6 separate regions of the Homo sapiens genome follow, and regions 1, 2, 4, 5 and 6 are each reported to be linked to region 3. The links are microRNA targets in miRTarBase. Many come from high-throughput screens and were not tested one by one. Region 3 holds a microRNA gene; each other region holds the end of a gene's coding sequence.

What was found. The annotated mature microRNA hsa-miR-431-5p reads UGUCUUGCAGGCCGUCAUGCA and lies in region 3 at 2,140-2,160, opposite strand. An mRNA with a match to its seed (bases 2 to 7 or 8) in the 3' UTR can be bound and repressed. Matches are read on the target gene's strand: a 7mer-m8 pairs with bases 2 to 8, a 7mer-A1 pairs with bases 2 to 7 and ends in A, and an 8mer does both.
Region 1: miRTarBase lists TMC5 as a target of hsa-miR-431-5p. Seed matches in the 3' UTR shown: 7mer-A1 at 2,588-2,594.
Region 2: the mRNA of TMEM184C is a reported target of hsa-miR-431-5p. Seed matches in the 3' UTR shown: 7mer-A1 at 628-634.
Region 4: miRTarBase lists IKBIP as a target of hsa-miR-431-5p. The part of its 3' UTR that is shown has no 7-base or 8-base seed match.
Region 5: miRTarBase lists ZNF485 as a target of hsa-miR-431-5p. Seed matches in the 3' UTR shown: 7mer-m8 at 2,103-2,109.
Region 6: miRTarBase lists NXPE3 as a target of hsa-miR-431-5p. Seed matches in the 3' UTR shown: 7mer-m8 at 2,606-2,612.

Annotation. Positions count from the first base shown.
Region 1 is chr16:19,495,582-19,501,030 of GRCh38, forward strand. It overlaps TMC5 (transmembrane channel like 5), which reads left to right. Exons shown (of 22, transcript NM_001261841.2): 21 at 1,540-1,582; 22 at 2,339-3,532. The coding sequence ends at 2,385. It also overlaps the pseudogene RNU4-46P. Among named protein-coding and RNA genes, the nearest start is that of TMC5-AS1, 10 kb to the left of the region's middle. RefSeq lists a silencer at 929-1,140.
Region 2 is chr4:147,631,765-147,636,876 of GRCh38, reverse strand. It overlaps TMEM184C (transmembrane protein 184C), which reads right to left. Exons shown (of 10, transcript NM_018241.3): 8 at 3,875-3,974; 9 at 2,941-3,112; 10 at 156-2,708. The coding sequence ends at 2,443. Among named protein-coding and RNA genes, the nearest start is that of TMEM184C, 17 kb to the right of the region's middle.
Region 3 is chr14:100,877,737-100,883,185 of GRCh38, reverse strand. It overlaps MIR431 (microRNA 431), which reads right to left and starts at 2,179; the gene lies at 2,066-2,179. RTL1 (retrotransposon Gag like 1) reads left to right here. Exons shown (of 4, transcript NM_001134888.3): 4 at 1-3,433. The coding sequence ends at 2,474. It overlaps MIR433 (microRNA 433), which reads right to left and starts at 1,300; the gene lies at 1,208-1,300. It overlaps MIR127 (microRNA 127), which reads right to left and starts at 207; the gene lies at 111-207.
Region 4 is chr12:98,623,429-98,626,428 of GRCh38, forward strand. It overlaps IKBIP (IKBKB interacting protein), which reads right to left. Exons shown (of 3, transcript NM_153687.4): 3 at 821-3,000. The coding sequence ends at 2,502. Among named protein-coding and RNA genes, the nearest start is that of IKBIP, 20 kb to the right of the region's middle.
Region 5 is chr10:43,614,529-43,619,860 of GRCh38, reverse strand. It overlaps ZNF485 (zinc finger protein 485), which reads right to left. Exons shown (of 5, transcript NM_145312.4): 5 at 1,957-3,570. The coding sequence ends at 2,492. Among named protein-coding and RNA genes, the nearest start is that of ZNF485, 11 kb to the right of the region's middle.
Region 6 is chr3:101,821,481-101,826,780 of GRCh38, forward strand. NXPE3 (neurexophilin and PC-esterase domain family member 3) reads left to right here. Exons shown (of 8, transcript NM_145037.4): 8 at 1-5,300. The coding sequence ends at 474. Among named protein-coding and RNA genes, the nearest start is that of NFKBIZ, 25 kb to the right of the region's middle.

The DNA of each region.
Region 1 (5,449 bases), not on the chromosome of region 3:
TGCGTTTATAATCGCAGCTACTCAGGAGGCTGAGGTGGGAGGGGAGGACTGCTTGAGGCCAGGAGTTTAAGACCAACATAGCGAGACCCCATCCCTTAAAAAATTTTAATAATTAGGCACGGTGGCATGCAACTGTAGCCTCAGCTACTCAGGAAGCTGAGGTGAGAGGACTGCTCAAACCCAGGAGTTTGAGGCTACAGTGAGCTATGATCCCATCACCGCACTCCAGCTTGGGAGACAGAACAAGACCCTCTCTCTAAAAAAAATTACCCTGGGCACAGTGGCTCCCTCCTGTGATCCCCAGCACTTTGGGAGGCCGAGGCGGGCTTATCACTTGAGGTCAGGGGTTCGAGACCAGCCCAGCAAACATGGTGAAACCCATCTCTAGTAAAAATATAAAAAACAAAAACAAACAAACAAGAAAACTTAGCTGGGTGTTGTGGTGCACATCTGTAATCCCAGCTACTTGGGAGGCTGAAGCACAGGAAATCACTTGGACCCAGGAGGTGGAGATTGCAGTGAGCCAAGGTCACACCATTGCACTCCAGCCTGGGCAACAGTGCAAGACTCCGTGTCAAAAAAAAAAAAAAATTAAAAAGTTATTTTTTGTGAATATTTCTGCCACAAAGCACGTACATGACAATGTTAATAGATATTGCTATATCATTCCCTTAAAAAGATTTAATCAATTTCATTCTTACCAAGAGAATATAAAGATACATGAAACCCTGCTCTAATTCCAAAGCCTTGCTTGCTTCCTGAGTGTCCTGAAAATACAGATGAACAGTAAATCCACCTTAACGCAAATACCACTTATGTTGGAAATTGTGATCTTGACAGAAGTGACTGACAAGTAATTTACCATCTGTGCAAATTTATACTGTCAGCACAATTTAGGTAAGGGATCTAGAGGCCTAAAGGTAGATTCTCTGAAGGTGAGGACCACGTCTGTGCACTTGTCACCCCACGTCCTAATTTATTACCTGGCATAATATGAATGCTCAGTGAATATCTGTGGAACGGCCAGGTGCGGTGGCTCACGCCTGTAATCCCAGCACTTTGGGAGGCCGAGGTGGACAGATCACTTGAGGTCAGGAGTTTGAGACCGGCCTGACCAACATGGTGAAACCCTGTCTCTACTAAAAATAAAAAAAAAAAATTAGCTGGGCGTGGTGGCAGGCACCTATAATCCCAGCTACTCCAGAGGCTGAGGCGGGAAAATCGCTGGAACCCGAGAGGCGGAGGTTGCAGTGAGCCGAGATCATGCCATTCCACTCCAGTCTAGGAGATAAAGCAAGACTCTGTCAAAAAAAAAAAAAAAAAAAAAAAAAAGAGTATCTGTGGAATGAATGAATGGAATCACTCTCCCTAAAAAACAAAACATGTTCAATATTTCTATGGCGGAGACTTGGCCTTAATCTCTCATCCCTTAACTTCTATAAAATGGTGAGGGGCTCACAAATTGTGCCAAATATGTGACAAGACCCAGAATCTGCATTCTTCCTCCGTGACGTGGCTGCTTGTTTTTTTCTTTTTCAGCAACAAGGCTTTTTGCATTTGGGGGAACATGATGGCAGTCTTGGTGAGTAATTAAACTGGGACAGAATAAGACACTAATTTATTTCTGGTGAAATATCCTAAGACAAGTGTAAGAATTGCTCATGTGTCCATTACTTTTTCAGTTGCAAATTGGATCCAAACTGGCTTAAACAAAATTCCAAGAATAATTCTTGCTTTAGGCCTTGCCTAACGCAGGAACTCACAGTGTCACCAGAACCCGGTTTCTTTCAGTTCCGTTCTTACCCATGTTAGTTCCTTTTGCAATAGACTCTGCCTAATAAGTGCAAGACAGCTTTATCAACTTCTTATATCTTCTCAGAGTCAGTCTGGTGGGAAAGACTGAGGGACCCAGGATTCTCACGGTGTTTCATAGGATCTGACTGGGTGATGTCCCCGTCTATGAACCAATTGTTGTGGGTGCAAAAATGTGGCAGTTCCCTTGATCACATGATTTCATCTGTAGATGCAGGTGGTGCAACCATGAAGACCATAGGGACCAAGAGTAGGGAAGGGTGACTTCCTAAAGAAAATCTGGGGCTGATGCCAGGAGAGCGAATTCTGGGCAGGAAACAAACAAGCAAACCCATTTATTTTTGGGGGATAGCATTTACTGATGACTTCCAGTGATGGGAGTTCAAGGGAAGGATTATAGAAACTAAAAGGAAGAGGCAAAGAAGGCATGAGAAGCTATGGAATCTTGAAGGCAAGCTGGTCTTTCCCTTGTAGAGATGGGGCAGAGTGTGCCTGCGTTAACTTCTCTTTCCTGTGTCAAACCTAGACTTGCGATCTAGAAGATCAGTTCAAGAAGGTAATCCAAGGGCCTGATGACTCTTTTGGTAACCAGACACCAATCAAATAAGGGGAGGAGACGAAAATGGAATGATTTCTTCCATGCCACCTGTGCCTTTAGGAACTGCCCAGAAGAAAATCCAAGGCTTTAGCCAGGAGCGGAAACTGACTACCATGTAATTATCAAAGTAAAATTGGGCATTCCATGCTATTTTTAATACCTGGATTGCTGATTTTTCAAGACAAAATACTTGGGGTTTTCCAATAAAGATTGTTGTAATATTGAAATGAGCCTACAAAAACCTAGGAAGAGATAACTAGGGAATAATGTATATTATCTTCAAGAAGTGTGTGCAGGAATGATTGGTTCTTAGAAATCTCTCCTGCCAGACTTCCCAGACCTGGCAAAGGTTTAGAAACTGTTGCTAAGAAAAGTGGTCCATCCTGAATAAACATGTAATACTCCAGCAGGGATATGAAGCCTCTGAATTGTAGAACCTGCATTTATTTGTGACTTTGAACTAAAGACATCCCCCATGTCCCAAAGGTGGAATACAACCAGAGGTCTCATCTCTGAACTTTCTTGCGTACTGATTACATGAGTCTTTGGAGTCGGGGATGGAGGAGGTTCTGCCCCTGTGAGGTGTTATACATGACCATCAAAGTCCTACGTCAAGCTAGCTTTGCAGTGGCAGTACCGTAGCCAATGAGATTTATCCGAGACGCGATTATTGCTAATTGGAAATTTTCCCAATACCCCACCGTGATGACTTGAAATATAATCAGCGCTGGCAATTTTTGACAGTCTCTACGGAGACTGAATAAGAAAAAAGAAAAGAAAAGAAATTAGCTGGGTGCGATGGCTTATGCCTGTAATCCCGGCACTTTGGGAGGCTGAGGCAAGCGGATCACTTAATGTCAGGAGTTCAAGACCAGCCTGGCCAACATGGTGAAACCCCGTCTCTACTAAAAATAAAAAAACTAGCTGGGCGTGGTGGTACATGCCTATAATCCCAGCTACTCGGGAGGCTGAGGCAGGAGAATTGCTTGAACCTGGGAGGCAGAGGTTGCAGTGAGGCGAGATTGTACCACTGCATTCCAGCCTGGGCAACAGTGAGACTCTGCCTCAAAAAAATAAATAAATAAATAAATAAAGTAAATTAAAAGTCTTATTCAAACCAAATATGAAACTGGTGGTGATGTGTGGAATGTGTGTGTGTGTGCACATATGTAATGAATACGTGTGTGTATAATGTTTTTGCAGGTTTGCCAAATGATTCACAAGCCACGTGGCTGTTCTTAACACTGAAAGGTCCAGCAGAAAGGTGCAGTTACTCAGGAGAGAGGAGCCTCCTCTTAAGTAATCACTCGCATAAAACCTAATTGGAACTGAATTTAGAAAGCAGTTAAGATACATTCGAAACACAAGCACCCAACCAGTGCTGTCATTTATTCCCTTTTTTTTTTATTTTTAAGAGATAAGGCTGGGCTGTGTTGCCAGCTTTGACTCAAACTCCTAGGTCAAGCAGTCCTCCCACTTCAGCCTGCCAAGTAGCTGGGACTACAGGCACACGCCACTGCACTTGACCACGCACTTTTTCATTCACTTATTTTTTTCATTAATTCACTTCATCGGAGGAATTAATTTCTTTTGGTGTCATCTTTGGTAACAGTTGTATGTAGTGTTCATCCATCCATTCATTCAACAAATATGGACCAAATAGTGGTGAGCAAGATGGTGAACAATTCATGGTGCTGCCTGTCTAGCAGGTTTAGACATGAATTTAATTCTTAAGCAATAATTAATTACAGTTGTAGTAGATGCTCTGAAGAAGCACAGGGACTAAGGGAGACTTGTCTGTGGGGTCAGTGCAGGCAACCCATGGAAGTGATGTTGGAAGTGATTTTATTCCCCTTGGGGTCATCTTAGTGCTGTTTGTGCTTTTTTCTTTGCTTTTTTTTGAGATGGAGTTGGAGCCTCCCTCTGTCTCCCAGGCTGGAGTGCAGTGGTACAATCTCAGCTCACTGCAACCTCCCCCTCCTGGGTTCAAGTGATTCTCCTGCCTCAGCCTCCCGAGTAGCTGCGATTACGGGAGCGTGCCACCAGGTCCGGCTAATTTTTGTATTTTTAGTAGAGACGGGGTTTCACCATGTTGGCTGGGCTGGTGTTGAACTCCTGACCTCAGATGATCCGCTCGCTTCAGCCTCCCAAAGTGTTGGGATTACAGGCGTGAGCCACCATGCCCGGCTGCTGCTTGGGCTTCTACAATGAAATCTGAACTCTCTCTGAAAGCATCACTTCTGCTCATTCACCAGATGCTAAGTGCTTCCATCTAGAATGCTTCTCCCTTCACCTCCATCCCTTGTCTCCACTTCAGTGCAGCCCTGCTTCTCCTGGAGGTGTACATGCAGTGGATAGTGGCTCATGCCTGTAATCCCCGCACTTTGGGAGGCTGAGGTGGGCGGATCACCTGAGGTCAGGAGTTCGAGACCAGCCCAGCCAACATGGTAAGACCTTATCTCTACTAAAAATACAAAAATTAGCCGGGCGTGGTGGCAAGCGCCTGTAATCCCAGCTACTCAGGAGGCTGAGGCAGGAGAATTGCTTGGACCCAGGAGGCAGAGGTTGCAGTGAGCTGAAATCGCACCACTGCGCTTCAGCCTGGGTGACAGAGTGAGACTGTCTCAAAAAATAAAGAAACTACTGTACATGGAAAGCATTTTAAACAGTCTAGGACATGGTAGGCAGTCAATAAATGTTAATTAGCAAGGATTTTACATGCACTCTTTCATTTAATCACTACCACCGCAAGAATACTACCCCTATTTTACAGATAAATTCAGTAACTTACCCAAGGTCATATAGCTGGTAAGTTGCTGAATAGGAAGGCAGACTTGGCTTTCTCTGATTCCAAATCCTGTTATTAACCCTATACTAAGCCTTCCAAGGAAGTGCTTAATAGTAGTTATTAATACCTTATTTCATCATTCAAATTCTCCACCTTTTGAGGCCCTGACCATCTTAGCATAGGACCTAAATCCTTAATTTGGCCTGGCTGAATCAAAGGTAAAATGGATTTGGGATAAAGATCAAGAGACA
Region 2 (5,112 bases), not on the chromosome of region 3:
CATTTCCTTGATGATTAATTATGTTGAGCACCCTTTTATATACCTGTTGGCCATCTGTGTGTCGTCTTCGGAGAAATGTCTTTTCAGGTCTTGCCCATTTTTAAAATTGAGTTGTATGAATTCTTTATAAATTTTGGATACTAACCCTTTTCCATATATATGCCTTACAAATATTTTTTACTCAATCTGTAGGCTACTGTTTCATTTTGTTGACTGTTTCTTTTACTGTCAGAAGCTTTTTGGTTTGATGTAGTCACATTTGTTTTTGTTTTTGTTGACTGAGCTTTTGGTGTGATATCCAAAAAATCATTGCCAAGGGTCAGTGTCCAGGAACTTTTCTCCTATGTTCTCTTCTATAGTTTCTGGTCTTACATTTAGGTCTTTTATCCATTTTGAATTGATTGTTGTGTAGGTCTAAGATAAGGGTCTGATTTCATTGTTTTGCATGTGGAAGTGCAGTTTTCCCAGCATCTTCATTAAGAACACTTAATGAAGACTGTTCTTTCCCCGATGTGTCTTCTTGGTGTCTTTGTCAAAAATTAGTTGACTGTGTATGTTTGGATTTATATCTGGACTCTTTCTTCTGTCCCACTGGCCTGTGTATGTGTTTTTATACCAGTACCATACTGTCTTGATTACTATAGTTTTGTAGTATAATTTATAATTAGGAAATGTGATGTCTCCAACATTTTTTCCTCAGTATTCTTTTGCCTATTCAGGGTCTTTTATCGTTACATATGAATTTTAGGATTTTTTTCTGTTTGTGTAAATAATGCCATTGGAATTTTGATAGGATTGCATTGATTCTGAATTGCTTTGGGTAGTGTGACCATTTTAACAGTATTATTCTGATCCATGAGCACGGGATACCTTTCCATTTATTTGTGTCTTTCTTTCATCAGTGTTTCATAGTTTTCAGTGTACATACAGATCTTTTACTGCCTTGGTGTTAAATTTATTCCTAAGTAAGTATTTTTTTTATGCTATCATAAATGGCATCTTAATTTTTCAGTTAGGTCATTATTTTCATTATTTATGTATAAAAATGCTAATGCTTTTTGTATGTTGATTTTGTATTCTGCAACTTTACTGAATTCACTTGAGTTCTAACAAACAGATTTTTTTTGTGTGTGTATCTTTGGGGTTTTTACATAGAGCCCAGTTTTAGTTTTAATAGAAATGTTTATAATAGTGGATGGAATAAAGACTTTGTATGATTACTGTGAACCACTATCTCTCTCTATATATATAGATAGATATGAATGAGTATGTGTATAAATACATAAAGCAAAGGCTTTGAGAAACAATACTCATCTTTGCTTTCTGTAACATACTATGGCACTTTCTGTTTTATTTTCATTATAAAATGTCAAACATGACCCAGTGGGGTTGTGATTAGCAATTAGAGAAACCCCATCCTAGGTAATAAAAAGTTTTCCCAAATAGCACCTATATGTCTTTCTGACTGTGGTTTAATGAGTAATTAAGACCATTCAGCCAAGATTTACATTTGCTGCCACCTTTAATAGCACTGATGAAAAGTAGAACTTTTTTTTTTGACTTCTTTTTCACTGTGCCTCTAATCAAGAAATTTTTGTTAAAATATTAAGGGTTTTTAATGTTTAAAGAATGAGACATAAAAAAGTTGCAGAAAATAAATGATAAATTCTTATTTATTGAAAGACATTCAGTTGAGGAATAGGGATATAACTGTTTGTTAGGTAAGCTTATATGGCACATGATTAAGTTCCACTAATTCGTATTTCTGCATTATGCTTTCTGATAATTCCGGAGCATTATACTCATGCAGCAGTGGTAGGAAGTACTGATGTTTTTTTAAAAAATGTCCATTCTTGGCCAGGCGCAGTGGCTCACGCCTGTAATTCCAGCACTTTGGGAGGCCGAGGTCGGCGGATCACGAGGTCAGATCAAGACCATCCTGGCTAACATGGTGAGACCCTGTCTCTACTGAAAAAAAAAAAATTAGCTGGGCATGGTGGCAGGTGCCTGTAGTCCCAGCTACTTGGGAGGCTGAGGCAGGAGAATGGCATGAACTTGGGAGGCAGAGCTTGCAGTGACCCGAGATTGCGCCACTGCACTCCAGCCTGGGTGACAGAGCAAGACTCTGTCTGTCTCAAAAAAAAAAAAGTCCATCCTCTTGATAAAGCAGTGTAACATCAGGAAGATTTAGTTGGGGTCATTGTCTACCATTTGAGTATGCGATACCCTAATGTTAAGAAATCAAGTCTAAGTCTAGGAAATTTAGACCAATTATTTTTGATATACAAAACTTACATATATAAATGCAGTAGTTGTACCTGGCTTTCAGCTATTTTTGTGTTGACATTTTCCATCATTTATGGTCTGTCCCAAGCACAAAATCCATGGGATACCAGGTAATGATATAATGTAGTAGTTGCACAGTTTGCTTTTCCATACTGTTCAGGAATCCACGGATTTATCTGAAGGTTCTTTTTTCTCTCCTATAGTATCACTAAGGATTTCATCAGATATCTTAGCTGTGGTAGGTGTAGTCTGGGGAGTCACAGTGTGTCCAAACCCTTGGTAGTGACCCATGGGTGAAGGTGGCATAGAAGAAGCAATGGAAATTGCATCTTGTGATGATGATGATAATAAACTTGTATGTTCATTTTGATCTTGATCCTCGGGAAACAATTTTTTCCTGGGATGTCCCCTGACTGTCCGTCCTTTAATATAAAGTTTTCTGTTAGTCAAAAGTTATTTTTACCATTATAAACTTACCATTCTAAAAATAAGCTCCCCACTTCCCCCTCTCCCACTCCCCAAAGTTGATGAGCCTGCACTGTGGTACTGCTTTAAAGTCTTTTTTCATCTCTAAATAGATAATAAATTGCCCTAGTAGGAGAAATTCAATATCCTACCCAACCTATTTGGTTGAATTAAATAGCTGGTACTTACCAACATGCCTTACTTGTTCAGAAATATCATCTCTAATATCTGAGACATCCCACATGGCAAGAAAGGAATCAAAGCATGAGCCCTCTTCTGCTTCTTGGACATATGGTTTATATGAGAATGTGTAATGATGAGCAATGGCAGCGAGGAACATCTCAATACAGATAATAAAATCCTATGAGAACAACAATAAGATAACAGCCACCTTTGGATTTAAATCTAGGTTTGTAGAGTGCTATCTTTCTCTACTTGCTTTTCAAAAGTGCTAAGATAAACAGCTGTGTTTTTTCTTCTCAGATTATATTCATTTTTCCATTTTCTAAAATAATTATTTTTGACCCCTTCAAAAAAAGACAAAATGCCAAAATGTGAATCTATTTTGCACTTCCTCAAGTAGCAGCCTTGAACTCCTGCATTCAAGCAATCCTCCCACTTCAGCCTCCCAAGTAACTAGGAGTATAGGCATGTGCTGTCATGCCTGGCTAAGTATTTTATTTTTTAGTTTTTTGTAGAGATGAGGTCTCTCTTTGTTGCCCAGGCTGATCTCGAATGCCTGGTCCAGTGATCCCCCAACGTTGGCCTTACAAAGTGCTAGGATTACAGGCGTGAGTCACTGCACCAGGCCAGCCTCAAGTATTTCTTAGCAAAGTACATTTCATTCTCAATCACATCAAGTATATTGCATTCCACCACCCAAGGACTACAAGGAGAAATGTGGAAAGAGAATTGGACTTAGGAATAATGAAATCCAGGTTTTATTCATGGATCTGCTACAAATTAGTAATTATGGCCAATTTCTCTAGGGTTCCCCTGTTTTCTCACCTGTAAAGTGAGGATAATAGCCCCATACCCTGTGTGTTGTCAGGTTTAGTGGAGATATGTAAAAATGCTTAACAAATAGTAAAGTTCTATTGAATTCAGAGATGGCACTACTTACCTGGAGTCCGGTGGCCACAGCTTCTACAGTTTGCCATTCCCACGTATGCTTTTCAGAAATAACGCCAACTTTTACCAACAAAGCAATAACTACTGCTTGCCTATATGTTAGGAAAAGGTAAACGCCAAATCTATATCAAGCATAAAATGAGCAGTAGTTTTAAAAATGTGCCATTAAAAAAAAATCCAGTGCAACCTGTGTACCACCACCACCCTGCCTTTACAGCATATTGCTGAAGAAACTCTATGTTAAATATATTAATTTGCTTTACAAATTCATTTTTCTAGTAGTTTTGTCTCAAGATAGGGAGTCAAGCTGAGCATTTCAAGCAAATCTAGAGATAATGGCCCCAGGTAAAATTTAAACAGCAAATAATGACATGGACATGCTTTCATAGTTGTATACATAAGAATATTCACTTCAGTGTTTCTTATAATGGTAAAAAAATTAGGAACAACCTGAATATCAAAAGGAGATTAGTAAAAAGTTATATCCACATAACAGAATACTAAGCAAAATAAAAATAAAAATAAAAATCACCCCCTCCACAAAACAAAATAATATTTCTGTTTACTGACAAAGAACTGTATCTACAATATACTACTGAACATTGTCGAATTCCAAAAATTTTTATAGTATGAAACTTTCTCTGGAGTTTTATATGTGACACAGGTTTACCAAGATGTTAATCATTCTTTTCTGGGTGGTGGGATTTCAGGGATTTTTCTTTTTCCCTTTTTGTATTGTTTCTAGCTTGTTAAATTTGGTGTATTTGTTTCTAGGACCCCTATTACCCACCTCTTTACTAAATTCTTTTTTTTTTTTTTTTTGAGACAGAGTTTCACTCTGGTGCCCAGGCTGGAGTGCAGTGGCATGATTTTGGCTCACCGCAACCTCTGCCTTCTGGGTTCAGGTAATTCTCCTGCCTTCCCTGCCAAGTAGCTTGGATTACAGGTGCCTGCTACCATGCCTGGCTGATTTTTGTATTTTTAGTAGAGACTAGCCATGTTGGCCAGGCTAGTCTGGAACTCCCAACCTCAGGTGATCCACCTGTCTTGGCCTCCCAAAGTGCTGGGATTACAGGCGTGAGCCACTGTGCCCGGCCCTCTTTACTATATTGAACTATGTATAGTTTTACCTTCTGTTTTAAAAAGATTTACTGATTATTTTCCCATATAATTAAATATTCTACATCATGCTTTCTTCCAAACTCCATAGTATTCTATTATATGACAGGG
Region 3 (5,449 bases):
TCCGCCCGCCCCCGCCATGCATTGCCCTAGAGAGGCACGGCATGAGCCTGCTACCCGGACTGCCACACCCATACTCAGACCTGGCCGACGTGTTTAACCCGAAGGAAGCAGATGATGAGACTTCCGACCAGCCAAGCTCAGACGGATCCGATGATCTTTCTGAATCAGAGCCCTCTGAGCTTCAGCAGGCTGGAGACAGTGATCACAGCGAGACCTTTTACGAGTGTCCCTCCACCGCGCCTTGGGAACCTGTGGGTGCCAGGATGCAAGAAAGAGCCAGGCTACAGGAGGAATACTGGGACCTGCAGGACATGCTGACCAACAGACAGGACTACATACAGATGATTCCGGAACTGTTTGACCAGTTACACGGAGCCGAGTGGTTCACAAAACTGGAGCTGCGTGGGACCATTGTGGAGGAAAGCGTGAACGGGCACCGCACCGAAGATGTGTGGAAAGCAGCGTTTGGTTTGGAGCTTGAAGAGATGAAGAGCTACCAGCCGTTTGCGCTCTCCCCAGACCCTATCATACCTCAGAACGTGATTCACTTCATCCTAAAGGACATGCTAGGGTTCTTTGTGCTTTCTTATGGCCAGGAAGTCCTGATCTACTCAATGAGTCAGGAGGAGCACCTCCACCACGTCCGCCAAGTCCTGGTCCGCTTCCGCCATCACAACGTCTACTGCTCCCTGGACAAGAGCCAGTTCCACCGCCAAACCGTGGAATTCCTGGGCTTCGTCGTCACCCCCAAAGGGGTGAAACTGAACAAGAACGTCATGACCATCATAACAGGGTACCCTACCCCTGGCTCCAAGCTATCTCTGCGAAACTTCATCGAATTCGTCTTCCCCTACCGCCACTTCGTGGAGCGCTTCAGCATCATCGCAGAGCCCCTGGTGCGGCAGCTGCTGAGCTCCTACCAGTTCTACTGGGGAGTCGAGGAGCAAGAGGCCTTCGAGTGCCTGAAGAGGGCTTTCCGCAAGGCGCCTCTCCTCCACCACCCCAAGCCCCAGAACCCATTCTACTTGGAAACCGGCGTCACCGGCACGGCCCTGCACGCCTCCCTGATCCAAATCGACGACCAAACCGGCAAGAGAGCCTGCTGCGCTTTCTACTCCCGCAACATCTCCCCTATCGAGGTTGAGTACTCTCAAGCGGAGATGAAGATTCTTCCAATACGGGCTGCCTTCATGGTGTGGTGCCGCTACCTGGAGAACACCGAGGAGCCCATCATGATCCTTCTCAACACAGAGGATCTAGCCTCTCTGAATAATGACAGGCTCACCGTACTTCTCCCCGGGCATTGGGTCTTCTTCTTCTCCCACTTCAACTTTGACGTCATGGAGCTGCCAGAACAAGACGGCGGCCGAGCTCTGCCACCTGTGAGAAACCTCCGGTGGAGGAGAGCCTTCCAGAGGAACACTGCCGCCAGGCAAACCCTGCTGCTGGCCTCAAGGGGATTCCCCAGGGATCCATCGACGGAATCCGGGGAAGAAGAGAATGAAGAACAGGATGAGCTCAATGAACAGATCCTACGGCAAGAGCTGCTGGCCATGATACCCATCGACCAGATCCTCAACAGCTTCCTCGCCCACTTCAGCATGGCCCAGATCAGGGCCGTCATTCTGCACTTCTTCCGAGGCCTCCTGTACTGGAAGAACACCCTAGCCCTGGCAGCCATCCTCGTGCTACTGCGCGTGAGGCAATGCCTCTCGCTGCGGCCGGCACCCGCCATGCGGGTGGCTCGGCCCCAGCCCCAGCGCTCCCTACGACTCATCCTGGATTCGTCCCTCATCGCAGGCAGCAGCATCACGACAGCCATCACCCAGCTGCTCACCCAGATGCCCGCTCTCGTAGGTGCAAACACCATCCCAGCCCAGGAGCTGGCTGAGCTGTTCCTGGGCCCTGGCCGCTGGCAGCGAAATGCTCTGCACTCCCAGGCCCACCGAGGCCTGCAGTTCACCCCTGGCTTCTGGCTGACGCTGTGTGAGTTCTTCGGTGTCAGAGTCACCCCCCAGGAGGGCCACCTCCCTGCCCTGCGTCAGAACCGCTACCTGGAGCTGCACGTCGTTGGTGATGAGGATGTCGTCTTGCGAGAAGCCCTGCAAGACGACCTGCAACGTTACCGTCAGTGTGGCCTGCATGACGGCCTGCAAGACACCTCGCAGGACAAGCAGGACAACGACGTGCAGGAGGCCCCACCCAGCCACACAGCAGCCACCCACCCACCCCGCCCACGCCACCTGATGGATCCCCAGGTCCTGGAATTCCTTGGTAGCCGCCTGCTCCACATCCACAGTGCAGATGGCCAGCTGCACCTGCTCAGCCGGGAGCAGGCAGCCAGGGCCCTGAGCCAGTTCCTGACCCTGATCTACAGGCGGGCCCTGCCCATCCCCGCCTGGGAGAGCCAGCCCAGGGAGCAGGCAAGGCTAGAAGAGCTGCCTGATGAGGACGAAGATGCTAACCTCGACTGAAGACGCCTCCCTGTCTCCAGCAAAGAGTCCCCTCTATTTCTCACCCCAACACCTCCCGACGTCCCCTGGCCTCCCCGCGCCTCAGCCTGCTTCGCTTCCCTTCCTGCCACTCCTGACCCAAGAGGAACCCACTTGTGAAGGGCAACAACTTCTTCAACTCATCAACCAGCAATGCCACCTGTGCTAACGGACTACCCAGTCCTCAGAGACCCAGCGCCAGCCCTGGGCTACGAGTTCTCCGTTCTCCAGGTCCCAAGCCCATGCCCGGGAGTGACATCCATGAGGGAGAAAGCAGTGGTGAGCAGGAAGTGACCCCATGACGCGTGGCCAGATGAAGAAGCAGGCACAGCAGGCGCAGCCAAGCAAGCAGGTGACGGGGCCCCCCACCCGGCCTGGTGATGGCCACCCTGGGACACTGACCTCGGGTGCTCCACTGACTTCTTCTACCTCCACTGCCGGTGCTCCTGCTCCCCTGAGCTCCCGCCCCCGCCCCCCAACCCCCATCCCCCAACCTCCCGACATCTGATGATGTGGTGCCTCCCTCACCCCCATCACACCCTGCAAGCAAACCCACCCCCACCCCCACCACATCTGCTTCAGCTTTTTTGACCCCGCCTTCCTCTTGCCCTGAGCTCTGGACTTACCTGGACAAAGCCGCTCTTTGGGGCATCCGGACGTACCAGTGCCACTTACCAGACTTGCACAGCAAAGAGGGCCCCTGCATGCCTTGGGGCGCCTTTCCCTCCCAACACTGAACACTGGACAGTGCAGGGGTGCAGGGGCCCCTCATACAGGGATGGAGTCCCAGAAGGCACACAGACACCCAGGGGACCATGCCGAGTCACAGAGAGGCTCTGGCCACACCACCGCTTTGCAAGGGGAGTAGACCCTTCCCCACCCCCCGAGCTTTCTCACCCCCCAATCTTTTTGCACTCCTCAAATAAAGCAAACTAAAAGACTGTCTGACTTTGGGGTTTGTTCTAAAAGTGGAGGTGGTGGGAGGATAGGCGGGGGAGGGGACACGCATGGGAGGAGGGAGGGAGTAGGTGGGGTGGACGAGGGGGCAAGTGGACTGGGCAGGAAGGGTGGGGGCAGGAAACGCTCTGCCCTGAAACAGCCCCTGGGGGCCTGGCACATGGGCAGCAGGCCTCCCCCAACCTTCCTGAAGGCGTCCCCACCAAGACTCTGGGCACTTCTTTCTGCCATGAGAAGGCACCCACCCCCACTGAGGCCACCAGGGACGTGCACCCCCCACAGGCTCATGTCAAAGAGAGGACAGAAGAGGTGCCTTAGGGCAGTGGGAGGCGGGGGAGTGGGGGCTGTCTCTCCTAAGGGTTCCAGAAAAGGGAGCCCCGAAACCCAGTTCCCACCTCTGGCCTTGGCCTCCTCGCCATGTGATTAACGAGGTGCGGTCTGAGCCCCACACTGCAGGGTCCACAAGCCCTGGTCTCAAGCAGTCCCTAACCCCCACTCCGAGAGGAAAAGTCCTGGGTCCCATTTCAGAGGGTCATGCTGTCCCCAAAGTGGCAAAATGGCTGTTGTGAGGGTGAGGGTGCACTGCCCTGGGTAGGGGAGCTGCCAGGGGTCCCACAGGGAGTTGGGGAGGTAGGGCAGGTGGCACTCACCCACTCTGAGTTCCCCCTCCACAGTCCAGGACATGCTGACCCCTCTTCCTGGCCATGGGTCACACCTATCCAGGAGTGGCCTCCAACCTCCCAGAGCACCCCCGCCCCACTGCACCCCTCCACAGGTGAGAGCTCTGCGAGGACACAGAGGGGAAGGAGCCGTGGGCCTCTCTCAGCATGACCTTGAACTTCATCTAGGAGGGCAAAAACACTGGAGCTCTGTGCACACGGGCCCCCATGCCAGGACACACCAGCTCTGCCCTCTCTGCCCTGCTGAGGAACCTGCTCCTGAAGACACACCGTGAGACCACCCAACAGATCTCAGGCTCAAAGCTCAGGGGCCCCGCAGGGGTCTGACTAGCCTGAGTTGGAGCCACCCCATCCCCTAGGAAAGCCATTTCCACCTGGCCCCAGAGTTCTCAGCTCCCACATGGAAGAGACCCTACTGTGTCCTCGAGGGGAGGCACGGGAGCATGACAGCCTCCAGACAGTGTGGCTCTGCCTCCTGCTCCTACCCATCGTGGACCAGGACCACTGGGCACACAGTGGGGAGCCCCTGACCAAGGACACACCCCACGGGAGCCCAAGGCTGGCACTGCAAGCTCAGCCTCCTTCCTTCCCTGCACTGCCCAGCCCCACACAGGGCTCACGATGCCCTCACAAGTCCCCAGGGGTGCCTGGCCTTCACCCACCATCCACCTGTCTGAAGAATCTACCCCTGATAGCAGCACCAGGAGATCATGGTCAGGATCTCCAGGTTCAAAGGCAGGGGCTACACCTCTGGGCTTCTCTCTCCCTCCACTGGCTGGCTGCAGGAAGGCCTCTCCCAGCCTCAGTTTCCTCATCTGTCACTCCAACCCACCAAGGCTGCTGTGAGGATTCAGAGTTAGGAATAAACTGCTGGGCACAGCTGGCACTCAGAGCTCCCAGCCCCATCCACAGACTTCTCATGTCAATTTCCCAAGGTAAACTTGGGGAAATCAAGGCCCAGAACCGGCTGCAGAGGAGCTGAGGACAGAGCCAGGATGGAGGCCCCTTCCTGGTGGCTGATCTTTGTCCTCTCACCTGGGCCACTTCACCCACTCTGCCTCCAGTCACAAGGCCCAGCAATGACCTCCACAACAACCAACATCACAGCAGCTCCAGGAGCTCAAGGGCACCATGTCTGTCTGTCCGTTCACCTAGCACTCTGCCTCTGATGGCAGCCCAAGACAGGCTGCCATGGGTTAAGGCCAGGGGCTCAGCTGCAAGAGGTGCAGATCCCCTTTAGTGACCTGGCCCCAGAAGGCCCCAACTTTGACTTGCTGGGTGACCTCAGGTAGTGGCTGTCCATCTTCCAGCCTGTTTTCC
Region 4 (3,000 bases), not on the chromosome of region 3:
GACATGAGGTCTCACCATGTTATCCAGGCTGGTCTTGAACTCCTGAGCTCAAGCGATCCTCCCACCTCAGCTTCCCAGAGTGTTGGAATTATAGGAGTGAGCCATTGTGCCTGGCCTTACTCCTCCTTACACTTTTTTTTTTTTTTTTTTTTTTTTTGTAGGGACGAGGTCTCACTATGTTACCCAGGCTGTCTCAAACTCCTGGGCTTAAGCCACTCTGCCTCAGCCTCCCAAAGTATTGGGATTACAAGTATGAGGCACTGTGCCTGGCCACTTTATAAGAAATTAATTGACATAAAATTTATTATCAGTTACAAAGATACAAAAATGTGTTTTAGGATATTGGTAATTTTCCCTAAAGAAAAGACTAACAATGTAATTTAATATTTGATACACAGGAAAGTTTTTGAAATTTTAAGCATCTGTGTTAAATAAATGAATGGAAGAAAGAGAGAAAGACAAATTAAGTACATCTAAATCTCTCTAATAATTTCTTAATAGGAAAACCTCTTCATAAATACAGGATATATCTATCTAGATATCTATACATACATACAAACGCATATATACTTTAATAGTTTTCTCATGTTATACTTGTAGAAGTGCAGTTTTCTTCCTTTCCCTTGTGTCATTATAGAGAACAGTAGCCACCTTGTTTCCATTTACTTTCAGTAACCATTACCATGGTATATATAAGTTCATAATAACCTCATATTAAATGTGGTGATCGGTGAGAAAAAAATATTTAAACGTAAAGGATATAAGATAAGAGATCACATTTGCCTTGACAGGATGGAGGTTAAAACAACAAAGTTCCAGCTTACTTTATAATCTATTTTATTACCATTAATATAAAAGTAAACAAATAGAATTTTGTCAGTGCACGCAAATAAGAGACATTCAGAAGTCAAGAAGTGTAATTTTAAGACTGCAAAAATTAATGCTATGCCCCTTAATAACAGAACTCTCCAGGCTTATTTTCATGATTCACGCTGTCTACCACAGGCCCTCCTAACTCCAGTGGAGAAGGAGTTTGGGGGTTCTCCAAAAACTTGCAAATTTACATATTAAAACTACTTGACCACAACTACCTTTTTGTAACTGACTGCTTTCAAGTTCTTTGTGTTTAATTCCATCAAAAACTGCATTATAAAACTGGTAAGGTTATTGACAAAGAAACAAGAACAAACTTCCATATTGCAGTTGACTACATTATATAATTTCAAATAAAATAAAATCAATTCATAAAACAAATTTAGTGGTGTGGTTTGGGAAATCTTTAAAATGACGTATTTTTAACTATCATAGTTATTATCATAATTAATTATCAGAGTTATGTTACTTTTCCCTCAAAACAGGCCACAGGCTTATTTTTATTTATTTATTTATTTATTGAGACAGAGTCTCACTTTGCCACTCAGGCTGGAGTGCAGTGGCGCGATCTCGGCTCACTGCAAGCTCTGCCTCCCGGGTTCACACCATTCTCCTGCCTCAGCCTCCTGAGTAGCTGGGACTACAGGCACCCACCACCACGCCTGGCTAATTTTTTGTATTTTTTAGTAGAGACAGGGTTTCACCCTGTTAGCCAGATGGTCTTGATCTCCTGACTTCGTGATCTGCCCACCTCGGCCTCCCAAAGTGCTAGGATTACAGGTGTGAGCCACTGCGCCTGGCCTATTTAAGTAAACCATCTAGAGACCATGGATCTAGCAAACTCATGTCTAACACAGTTGGAACCTAAAACTCAGGTATATAAAGATATTTCAAAGATTTATATACACATAATTCCTAAGAAAGGCCTTATGTAAGAACATACTTACTCTGATTTTAAAAGTCTTACAAGTATCTGTAACACAGTTTAGAACCTTAACAAAAACTAAAATGTTTCCCAGGCTTTAGAGTTTTCAGAAAGTGCATATTAATTCATAGCAAAGGCACCAGGCTCTCCCTCAGGCATGTTATCTTTTATTTTACACAAAATTCCCATGAACTTGGTTGTGTGGATTCTTAACCTGCAGTGAATTACCTAAGAAAGTGAACTGGCTGAGGCAGGCACATTACCAACCAACCTGACAGTAAGTTCAGGTGACAGAAAAGGTATGAGACATAGGTTTGAAAATGGCAAATTGGGGTCATTTAGTGAAGTGGTAAATACTCTTTATTAGCCCCTGGAGACATCAATATATGTGGGTACAATATAATAGGTGAAATTAATGATGATGTTCATTAATGCTTTAAAAAACATTAAAAATATTAAGTATCTTGTTTTAAAAGTAGAGAAATATTTTTAAAGAACTATTTCTATTTCAAATAGTTACAATGAAGTAAGTTTTAGTGCTTAAAAAGATAAGCTTTGATTATGTGGATAATCCATTTGTGTGGACATCTCATTTATTTTCCAATAATGTAGGATAAGATGAGGCGTATCAAAGTAACTCAAAATCAATGGACTAATCAATTTATGTATAATGATATGGTTCATCAGAATAAATGTCATGAATTTAAAAATCACCACCAATTCCTTTATTTTCTATATTATATTCTTTTAAAGTTCCCTTTTCTCCTGTACTTGAGTATGCTATAAAATCATGAACTTTTTCTTTTAGAATATCCAGTTCATTTTGCATCTTTAATATGCTATTATCATACTGAATTCCTTCAAGGGTTTTCTGCATCTCCATTATTTCAGACACTGCTTTCAGCATATCATCTTCCATATTAAACATCTGCATAGTCAAGTCTTCCATTTTCTTTTCTGTTTCTATCAGATCCTGAGAGACTCTGAGAACAGAGTGAATAGCACTTTCAATTGTTGGCAAATGTGTCTTGCATTCTTCAACTTTGGGTTCGTAGTCGGAAAGTTTATTAGTCAGATCTTCATCTCTGGCAAAGAGGGCATGCTGTTCCTCTTCTAACTTTTCAATTGCCTTTGTATCAGAGCCTAGCTGCTCCTCTACTCGCAGGAGATCTTCTTCTTCTTGTCTTTTTACTGTTCTAATA
Region 5 (5,332 bases), not on the chromosome of region 3:
TTCTGAATCCTTGACTCACAAAATCTGTGAACACAAATACTGGCAACTAAGTGTGTGACGGTTTATTATACATCTGTAGTAACTGGGATGCTAGCCTATGAGAGTTTCATAACTTATTTAAACATTTCCCTACTTAGATATTTCTCCCACCTCTTTCCAGGATATTAGTATAACCAATGACGATGAGCAATACAAGCTCTGTAAGTTAGTCAAATTATTTCCTTAAATGTTTGAGGGTGGCATTTCTGGGTCAATTAGAACATACATTTACATTTACATTCATGTTGCCAAACTGTTATCCAAAGCAGCTTAACCAGTTCTTACCAACAATCATCTATGTGTGTGCAGCCGTGCTTCTTTTGATTAAATCTGGCCCTCTGCAATCATCAGTTGAATACTTAGATCCTTTCTTTTCTATTTTATAACATTCCTAAGTTTGCTTTATTGCTTTTACATTGTGAACTATATCCATGATATATTTTTATCACAAAATATTCAGGCAATGCATTGACTATACAAAAGAAGTACTATACCATTATTCTTTACTTTGGATCTTTTTCAACTTAATGTCATAGACAACTTTGCCTGTCAGCTCATAAAAGTCTAACTCACCAAATGTTAATTAATTAAAGGACTGTCTTTTAATTAAATGTTGAGTGACTACATGGTAGTCCAAAGACTGCATGTATCTTCAACATTCCTCTGATGACAGATATTACAGTGATTCCACCTCTTCATTACTACAATGCTGTAAAGACCACCTTTACTTTTTAATTAGATTTTAAGTAGAAATGTTAGGTCAAAAGGTCAAAGTTGGTAGGCATAATCATTTATATTTCTTTTTCTGACAACTGTACATTCACATCCAAGACCATTTCTCCACTGGAATTTTTATATTTATGTATTTTAAGGACTCTCTAAATAGTCTAAGTGTTACCTGTTAAATATGATGATGGTAATATTTTCTCCAAGTCCAGCCCTTTGTATTTTAATACTACGAAGCCTCTAGTTGCAGAAACTAAAAGCTTTTAGTTTCTGTGTGGCATTTGTCTTATTTTTATGACTTCTGAGTTTTCTTATATAGGAAGATAACTATACTAAGTTACAGAAGATACATGAATGATGCTTGATTAAATATTTCATTTCAAAGAACTCAGTCAAAGTCATAATTTCACTTCATCATACCAATATAGGTCGAGTATCCCTTGTCTGAAATGCGTGAGACCAGAAGTATTTAGGATTTCAGACTTTTTTGGACTTTGCAATATTTGCATGCAAATAATAAGGAATCTTGGGGGTGCATTTTTTTTTTTTTTTTTTTTTTTGAGACGGAGTCTCGCTCTGTCGCCCAGGCCGGACTGCGGACTGCAGTGGTGCAATCTCGGCTCACTGCAAGCTCCGCTTCCCAGGTTCACGCCATTCTCCTGCCTCAGCCTCCTGAGTAGCTGGGACTACAGGCGCCCGCCACCGCGCCCGGCTAATTTTTTGTATTTTTAGTAGAGACGGGGTTTCACCTTGTTAGCCAGGATGGTCTCGATCTCCTGACCTCATGATCCACCCGCCTCGGCCTCCCAAAGTGCTGGGATTACAGGCGTGAGCCACCGCGCCCGGCCGGGGGTGCATTTTAACTGCAACCCATCACATAAGGTCTGGTGTAGAATTTTGTACCTGTTGGTGCTCAGACAAATTTTGGATTTTGGAGCACTTCAGATTTCAGATTTTCCAGTTATGGATGCTCAACCTATACTACATCCTCATCAAAGATAACTGCTGTTAGCTGAGTGTGGTGGTACGTGCCTGTAGCCCCAGCTACTCCAGAGACTGAAGTGGGAAGGTTGTTCAAGCCCAAGTTCAAAACTACAGTGAGCTATGATCACATGGCACTCCAGCCTGGGTGACAGAGTAAGAGCTAGTTTCTTTTAAAAAAAAAAAAAAAGAGAGAGAGAGAGAGATAACTGCTGTTAAGATTGGTCTTTATTTGTCCAGGTCTTTTTGAATGCATATAATATAGATTTCCTGAAACTTGCTTCTTTAACAAGGGTATATTGGGTATATTATCATGGGTATATTTCTACTGTTGTATTTTTTTACTTAGAGATGGAGTCTTGCTATGTTGCCCAGGCTGGAGTGCAGTGGCTATTCACATGCACAATCATAGTGCATTACAGACTCAAACTCCTGGGCTTAAGCAATCCTGTCTCAGCCTCCCAAGTAACTGGGACTACAGGCATATGCCACCATGCCTGGCTTTGTACAGTATTTACAGCTCCACCTCATTCTTTTCAATTAGCACACAGTATGCTATAACTACTTCCATACTGACATACATTTAGTTTCTTCAAATATTTCACTAGTAGAACCTCACAATGAATATCCTCACAAGTGATGTGTTCTCTCAGAAGTACAGAGTATTTCTGTTAAATGCATAATTTATTTAATGTCTCCTCTATGATGGTCAGAAGGAATAAACTACTCTGCACAATTTGCCACACTAACTACATTTCATGGCTCTTTCTTTATTATGAATTTTCTTATGTTGCTTAAGGGCTGAACTTCGGGGAAAAGCTTTCCCACATTCATTACATTTATAAGGTTTTTCCCCAGTATGGAGTCTCTGATGTTCAACAAGGCCTGAGCTGTGCCGAAAGGCTTTCCCACATTTCTTACAGTGATAGGGTTTTTCTCCAGTATGAATTCTCTGATGTCCAGTAAGGGTTGAGCTCTTTGTAAAGGCCTTCCCACAGTCACGACACTGATACGGTTTATTTCCACTGTGAGTTTTCTGATGACCAGCAAAGGATGAGCTATACCTGAAAGATTTTCCACATTTACTGCAGTGATAGGGTTTCTCCCCAGTATGCATTCTTTGGTGACTAATAAGAGTTGAGCTCTTCCTAAAGGCTTTTCCACATTCATTACACTGATATGGCTTCTCACCAGTATGGATTTTCTGATGTTCCAACACAGTTGAATTATCCCTGAAAGCTCTCCCACACTTGTTACATTTAAAAGGCTTCTCTCCACTATGTATTCTTTCATGACGAGTAAGAGCTGCATTCTGAGCGAAGGCTTTCCCACAGTCATTACATTTGTAGGGTTTCTGGCCAGTATGAATTCTCTGATGACTTAAAAGGATTGAGTTCTTTCTGAAAGTTTTTCCACATTCAATGCATTTGTGGGGTTTCTCCCTAGAATGAATTCTCTGATGGTTGATAAACGTTGAGTGCTTCTTCAGGAACTTCCCACATTCAATACATCTATAAGGCTGTTTGCCTGCATGAACCTTATGGTGATTTAAAAGGGATGAACTGTTCATAAAGGCGATCCCACATTCTTTACATTTATGTGGTTTCTCACTGGTGTGATTTCTCTGGTGGCTAATAAAGGACGAATTGTATTTGAAGACTTTCCCACATTCCTTGCACTTATAGTTCTTCTCTGTGGAGCTTCTGCCCTCCCAGTCCAGGCCTTTTTCCATCATGACACTTTTCGTTCGCTCTCCCAGAACAGATGCTTCAGAAGTGCTTTGCTTTAGGGCTGACATCTTTGTTTCAAACCAGTAATCCTCGACTGAAAGAAAATTTTAAAAATTCAAATGTTCTTTATGTTGAAATGCTGAAAGTGAGAGTTGTGCAAGGACTTGAATAATGTTCTATTCTACATAACTAAAGGTTATGAAAAATTATTAATGTGTCCCACTTGTGATTCTTGCTGAGAAAAGATGGCCAGACTAAGGGCAGGAAAAGGAAGTATGATTTTAAAGAAAAGAAAAGAATCTGTACTATAAACATTGCATTTAAAGAATGCAGTGAGCCCCTAAGAAGTTGCCAAGTTAGGAAGACAACACAGGAAACAGCTAAAAAAGAAAAAAGACAATGTGAGAATAAATACAAAATTGAGGAGAAAGCCCAGAGTCACAAAGCAAGCTATAATTACTACTAGGGCAGATTTCTGCAGGTGGTATATTTGAGAACATTATGATGTCACCAAGAACTTGAGAAAAATAGTTCTCTGTGAGGATTTAAGAGTGAACCAATATTTAATTGCTCAGTGGAAAAAAGAAAACAGAAAAAATATTCAAGGAACAAAAATAGTTCTCAGGCCAATAAGATTTTACTATAAACTAAATTTTTAACATATCTAAAAAACAACATACCTATGCCAGGCACGGTGGCTCATGCCTGTAATCCCAGCACTTTGGGAGGCCGAGACGGGTGGATTACTTGAGGTCAGGAGTTCGAGCCCAGCCTGGCCAACATGGCAAAACCCTGTCTCTACTAAAAATGCAAAAACTAGCCAGGCATGGTAGCACATGCCTTTAATCCCAGCTACTCGGGAGGCTGAGGCAGGAGAATCGCTTGAACCCGGGAGGCAGAAGTTGCAGTGAGCTGAGATCATGCCACTGCACTCCAGCCTAGGTGACAGAGCAAGACTCTGTCTCAAAAAACAAAAAAAAAATTACCAATCAATGGGTGTACTATGTGAATTTTCTCTAGCTTTTTACAAAGTACAGACACAAGACCTAAGACAGACAGAGCGAAATGATTCAGACAAAAACGTTCTGAAAAACTAATAGAGCCAAACTTGTAGTAAAATTAACAATCACCAACCAATTATTTTACTAAATGCGCTTTTCTTATAAACATAAGTTGTATCTATCTATACCTAAAGATATATACACATACATATATTTATATGTATTTATACTTAGTAGTCTGGGGAGAAATTCCATGCAATGGATATTAGAGCTAAGACTTATTTTTTCAAGGAAATGTAAGTTGAAGGTGAAGCCCAGTCAGAAACAGCCCACATTCTTCCAATGGCCTTTGATGGGATATGTGTTTAATGTATTATGATCAAACTAGAGAAAATTTCAAGATACTGATTGTAAAGCTGGCAACGTGAAGACACATATGGGCACTTCTTCTATGACAAAGGTGGTCTTGCAAAGCAGTGAGGAAGAGGAGATTCTGCATTAGTACATTTTAGGAGAAAAAAAATATATAAACCCTAACTCATATGATGCACAGAAATCCATTCTAAGAGGATGGTAAATGTAAACATAAAAACCAAATAATAAAGCTTCTAGAAATTAACACAGAAGAATATCTTCATGATCTCGGGAAAAGAAAAAATATTAAAATCACAAAAATAATAAATGTTAGTAAATAATTGTTAATATATAATTTAAAATAAACATTTTAAATAAAGCATGACACAAAAAAGCACTGACAAAAAAGAAAGGGATTGATCAAATGGAAGAACTGGGCTGGGCACGGTGGCTCATGCCTGTAATCCCAGCACTTTGGGAGGCTGAGGCAGGAGGATGGCT
Region 6 (5,300 bases), not on the chromosome of region 3:
CTCAAATACCGCTGCCATGGTCCACCCATCCGCTTCACGACTGTCTTTAGCAATGAGCTCCATTATGTGGCGAATGAGCTGAATGGCATTGTGGGAGGGAAGAACACAGTGGTTGCCATAGCTGTATGGTCTCACTTCAGCACCTTCCCTTTGGAAGTGTACATCCGGCGGCTCAGGAACATCCGTCGAGCAGTGGTTCGGCTCCTCGATCGAAGCCCAAAGACCGTGGTGGTCATCCGGACGGCCAACGCCCAAGAGCTGGGACCTGAGGTGAGCCTTTTCAACAGCGACTGGTACAACTTTCAGCTGGACACCATCCTTCGGAGGATGTTCTCAGGGGTTGGAGTATATCTCGTCGATGCCTGGGAGATGACCCTGGCCCATTATCTACCGCACAAGCTGCATCCAGATGAAGTTATTGTGAAGAACCAGCTGGACATGTTCTTGTCCTTTGTGTGCCCCTTGGAAACCTAGCCTGTCTTGGAAGGGACTGGAGGAATCATATTCAATGACCTTCTCAATTGACCTGAGTTACAGAAAGTGGCCCCAGTGAGAGATGACTGCCCTTAATAAGTATAAAATTTCAAAAAGATCTGGACTTAATATGATGACTTATAAGGAGCTTAGAAAATGCAGGTTACATTTATATCTACCTATAGGATTTTATCCAATGTTGACTTAGCCATGGTAGAACTCTTAACTGCATCTACACACTATATTGCTCTTGTAACCAAAGATGCTAATGAGTGTATTTGAATTAGCTTCTCCTAGGAGGGGTGACTACTTTGCTAAAGAGTATGAAAAATGTTTTGATGGAAGGGACAAGTTTGGTTGGTAGTAGAGTGTTTGTAGCTTATCTGGTAAAGGAAATTGAGTGCATCTGCATGCATAGCACAAGTAATCCATCTTCTGGCGGTTAACTAGAGAAAGCTTATAGTCAGAGGCTCTTGTGAATGCACTGAAGACTGCTGTGTCTCAGGAGTTTCTCTTGATGATCTACCTTTTCTGAATTACTTGAAAAGGCCAATGTGCTTGGTTCGAGTTTTTTAGTGAATATTTACAATTTCCTGCTTTTATCTAGAAAAGAAGCAAAAGGGAAATATGAAAGCAGTATATATAAAATCTGTGCTTTGGAATTGATATTTGCATTTGGTGATTGTTTTTTATTTGATTCAGCTAAATTTTATGTGTTGAATACTTACTCTAGAATAACTACTTTTGGAACTGGAAGGGGGAAATCTGTAAATGGAAATTTATTTTTATGTTCTGAAATTTGAGGGTTTAGGAATTGACTTTTGTGTAAAGAATGCTACGATATTATAAAGCTGTGGAAGTTTTTTCCACTAGTTTCAGGTGTTTTTTTTTTTGTTGTTGTTGTTGTTATTTTGAACTACTTACCAAAATTAGAAGTTAAAATCTAATTAGAAATTAATAAGATACTAAAATTCATGACAGTTTTTTGTTTGTTTGTTTGTTTGTTTTTTGGTATTTCTTGATTTGGGCATAAAAGGCACACCCATTCTCTCATGCTTGGAAGAAGCTGCTATTCCTACTGGCTATCTAAGAAGAATGGAATTATTAATTTTATTTGACTTATTAATTTTAAACGAGTTTAATTTGGGATCATTTAGTAAGTACTCTTTTCTTTTTGAGCTGTGATAGATTATAGTCTAGTTTAAGTTGCTCCTAAGTAGACAGATGAAGAAACTAGGGAGGCTTTAGAGAGGAAGACAGATGCTTGAAGTATGAACAATATATACCCTTAGAAGAATGGGTCAAATAATTTGGGTTTTTAATTTAAAATAGGAGGGCCCCAGATCTTACTTTCCTGTCCTTGAGGAACACCTTCAAGTTTTTAAAGTATTTTAGGGGGAAAGAAGATTTTTAATTGTTTCTGAGCCTAATGAGGTAATAAAATATATTAAAATAGTTTAATTTTAATGGTCCTTACGCTTTACAGTACCTAAGGATCACTTGTAGTATCTGACAAAAATGCAGAATTAAAGAGTCATGGCAGGGTGTGGTAGCTCAAGCCTGTAATCCCAGCACTTTGGGAGGCCAGGCAGGAGGATTGCTTGAGGCCAGGAGTTTGAGACCAGCCTGGGCAACATAGTAAGACCTCATCTCTACAAAAAATAAAAAATTATCCAGGTGTGGGCCGACAGTCCCAGCTACTAGGGAGGCTAAGGCAGGGTGATTGATTGAGCCCAGTAGTTTGAGGCTGCAGTGAGTTATGATTGCGCCACTACACTCCCACTTGGGCAACAGACAAGAGATCTTATCTCTAAAAAATTTTTGTTAAATAATAAAAGAATTAAGGCCAGGGATGTTGGCTCACATCTGTAATCCCAGCAGGGATTATAGTCTCGGGAGGCTGAGGTGGGCGGATTGCTTGAGCCCGGAAGGTCAAGACCAGCCTGGGTGCCATGGTGAAACCCCATCTCTACAAAAAAATACAAAAACTAGCTGGGTGTGGTGGCACCACCTGTAGTCCCCGCTACTTAGGAGGCTGAGGTGGGAGGATTGCTTGAGCCCAGGAGGCAGAAGGTTGCAGAGGTTGCAGTGAGCCTTGATTGTGCCACTGTACTCCAGTCTGGGCAACAGGGCAAGACCCTGTCTCTAAAAAAAAAAAAAAAAAAAAAAGAGGGACCATGATGCCTCTGGGATTTATGAAACCAACCTTTGTGGCGAGTGCTCAGTGATTCTGATGCAATGGTGGTATTCCACACTGTGAGAAACACTAAGAGAAGAGGTAAGATAGAATGAGGGAATAAACATGGCTTGTTTATTATTTTGGGGGATTTACCAATAACTGGTTTAATTCTGTTCATGATCCAATAGTATTGGTGATATTAGCTCCATTTTATAGATGAGGAACTCATGTTTAGATCTGAAATAAGGTATGTGAGAGTCCATATCTCTTTTCAGCTAAACTTGTGAGACTTTCGTAAAGAAGCGTTTGTATTTATTTATTTGTTTTTGAGACAGGGTCTTGCTCTTTTGCCCAGGCTGGAGTGCAGTGGCATGATATGGCTCACTGCAGCCTTGACTTCCTGGGCTCAAGGGATCCTTCTGCCTCAGCCTCCTGAGTAGCTGGGACTACAGGTATGTACCACCATGCCCAGCTAATTTTTGTATCTTTTTGTAGAGACTACATTTTGCCATGTTGTCCAGGCTGGTCTTAAACTCCTGAGCTCAAGCATCTGCCCACCTCAGCTTCCCAAAGTGCTGGGATTACAGGTGTGAGCCACTGTGCCCAGCTGAGAGTTTTTCTTGTCGTGAAAGAACTTGACATTTCCTCAAGGATTTATAAAGGAGGCTGAGGAGTAATTTTCCCAGGAGAATTTTAAAAAGAAAGCGGGCATTGCTCCTCCAGTGGTTTGGAATGATGCCACTTGATTGTGCAAATGATTTCTTATGATCTTGTCTGGTTTTCTGTTATTTTTTGATTTGGTGACATAGCTCTCAAAGATTTGGTGACACAGCTTCTTGAGTCACTTTCATCTCTCTTAAAAAAATTTTTTTTTTAACAACTTTTAAGTTCAGGGGTACATGTGCCAGTTTGTTTCATAGGTAAACTTACGTCATGGGGGTTTGTTGTATAGATGATTTCATCACCCAGGTGTTAAGCCTAGTACCCATTAGTAATTTTTCCTGATCCTCTCCCTCCTCCTACCCTCCACCCTCCAATAGACCCCAGTGTGTGTTGTTGCCCTTTATGTGTCCATGTGTTCTCATCATTTAGCTCTCACTTATCAGTGAGAACAACTTTCATCCCACATCTAATTTGTCTTTCTTCACTCTGGTGTGGAAATTTTGATAGAGATTCCAATATCACTTAAACGTTTCCCAGAATATTTAGATAGAATAATTTAGTTTCTTCTGAAAAGTTTATTTTAGGCTAGTGCCACATGGTTGTGAATATTAGCATGGTAGCCAAATAATAGTTTGTTTAAATGTATATTTCCCAATATAAATATAAGGGGCATCATAATTTTTAAAAACTATAAAATCTAGAAGAAAAATCTATGGATAAAATCCATAATTCTATCATCTGAATGCAATGAACATTAGCATTTAGGTATATTTTCTTGCAGGTTTTTTAACCATATACTTATAGAGAATATGTAATTTGGGTCTGTGTTTTTTACATATAAATATTTTTCTATGTTAAATAGTCTTCATAAGTTAATTATAAAGATCTGCTTAATAGTTCTGCTACTGCAGTTTTCATTATTAGATAAGTTGGTCATTATAGTTGGACATTTAGGTTTACAATATTAAAGCAGTGGTTTATATCAATTTCAGTGGTTTAAAATATGAATTTCTATTTTGGAATGAAAGTATTAATTTAATGTAGTGAATCTCATATTCCAGAACTGAGATGATTGATTTGATGCTATTTGTGACAGACAGAACCCATAATAAAGCCTTTCTATGCAAGTTACATTTTATAGAATTATCCTACTAAAAGTAACCTTTCTTCAGCGAATGCAAAACAGACCTTTGGTGTTCCAGTATGATTCATTTTGCCATTCTGAACAACTATCATTTTAATTAAGACCATTTAACTGACACTTCCTGGATTCAGTTATTAAGTTTCAGATTGAAACTTGATCCAGTTTAATAACTGAATCCAGTTTCACATTTATCAATCTGAAAACTTAGTTTGCAGATTGGTAAATCAGGGTACTTGACAAGAATAAATATGGTACGCCTTTATATATTCATGTGTTACATGCCAGAAATGAGTCTGTTTCTGGACCCTGTTCAAGGAAATAGTGATGACTGAGAGAGGTACAGGGAAATAAACACCCAAGGGAAACAACAGAAATAAGCCTCCCCAACTTTCTAAAAAACTGCTCAGCATTATCTCTGTGGATTCTGGGTAAATTCAGCTTTTTAACATCAGCTAGTCACTAATGCCAGAAATTCCACTTCAAGTGTATTTATTTTCTTGTGTTAAGCATTATTCTACCTGGTTTATGTCTACAATGTAGTATTAGTGTACTTAGGATTCTTGACACCTCAGTGTGCAATAAATAAAATTTTGAAGTTGTTGTTTTTCATTTGAAGGTGAGACCACAGCCCCTGAGTGCTAAGGGGACCTGGGAATCCTAGGGGAATGGAGGTGGTGGACGATAAGAGGATGGTTGAGGGCAGGAGTTTAAAGGACACAGAAGCTAGGAGAGCAGAAAATGTACTCCACCACCTTCTGTCTAACTTGTCTCTTAAAAGTGCTTTTACATTTTAACTTTTTAAAAAAATGTGGGCCGGGCATAGTGGCTCATGCCTGTAAT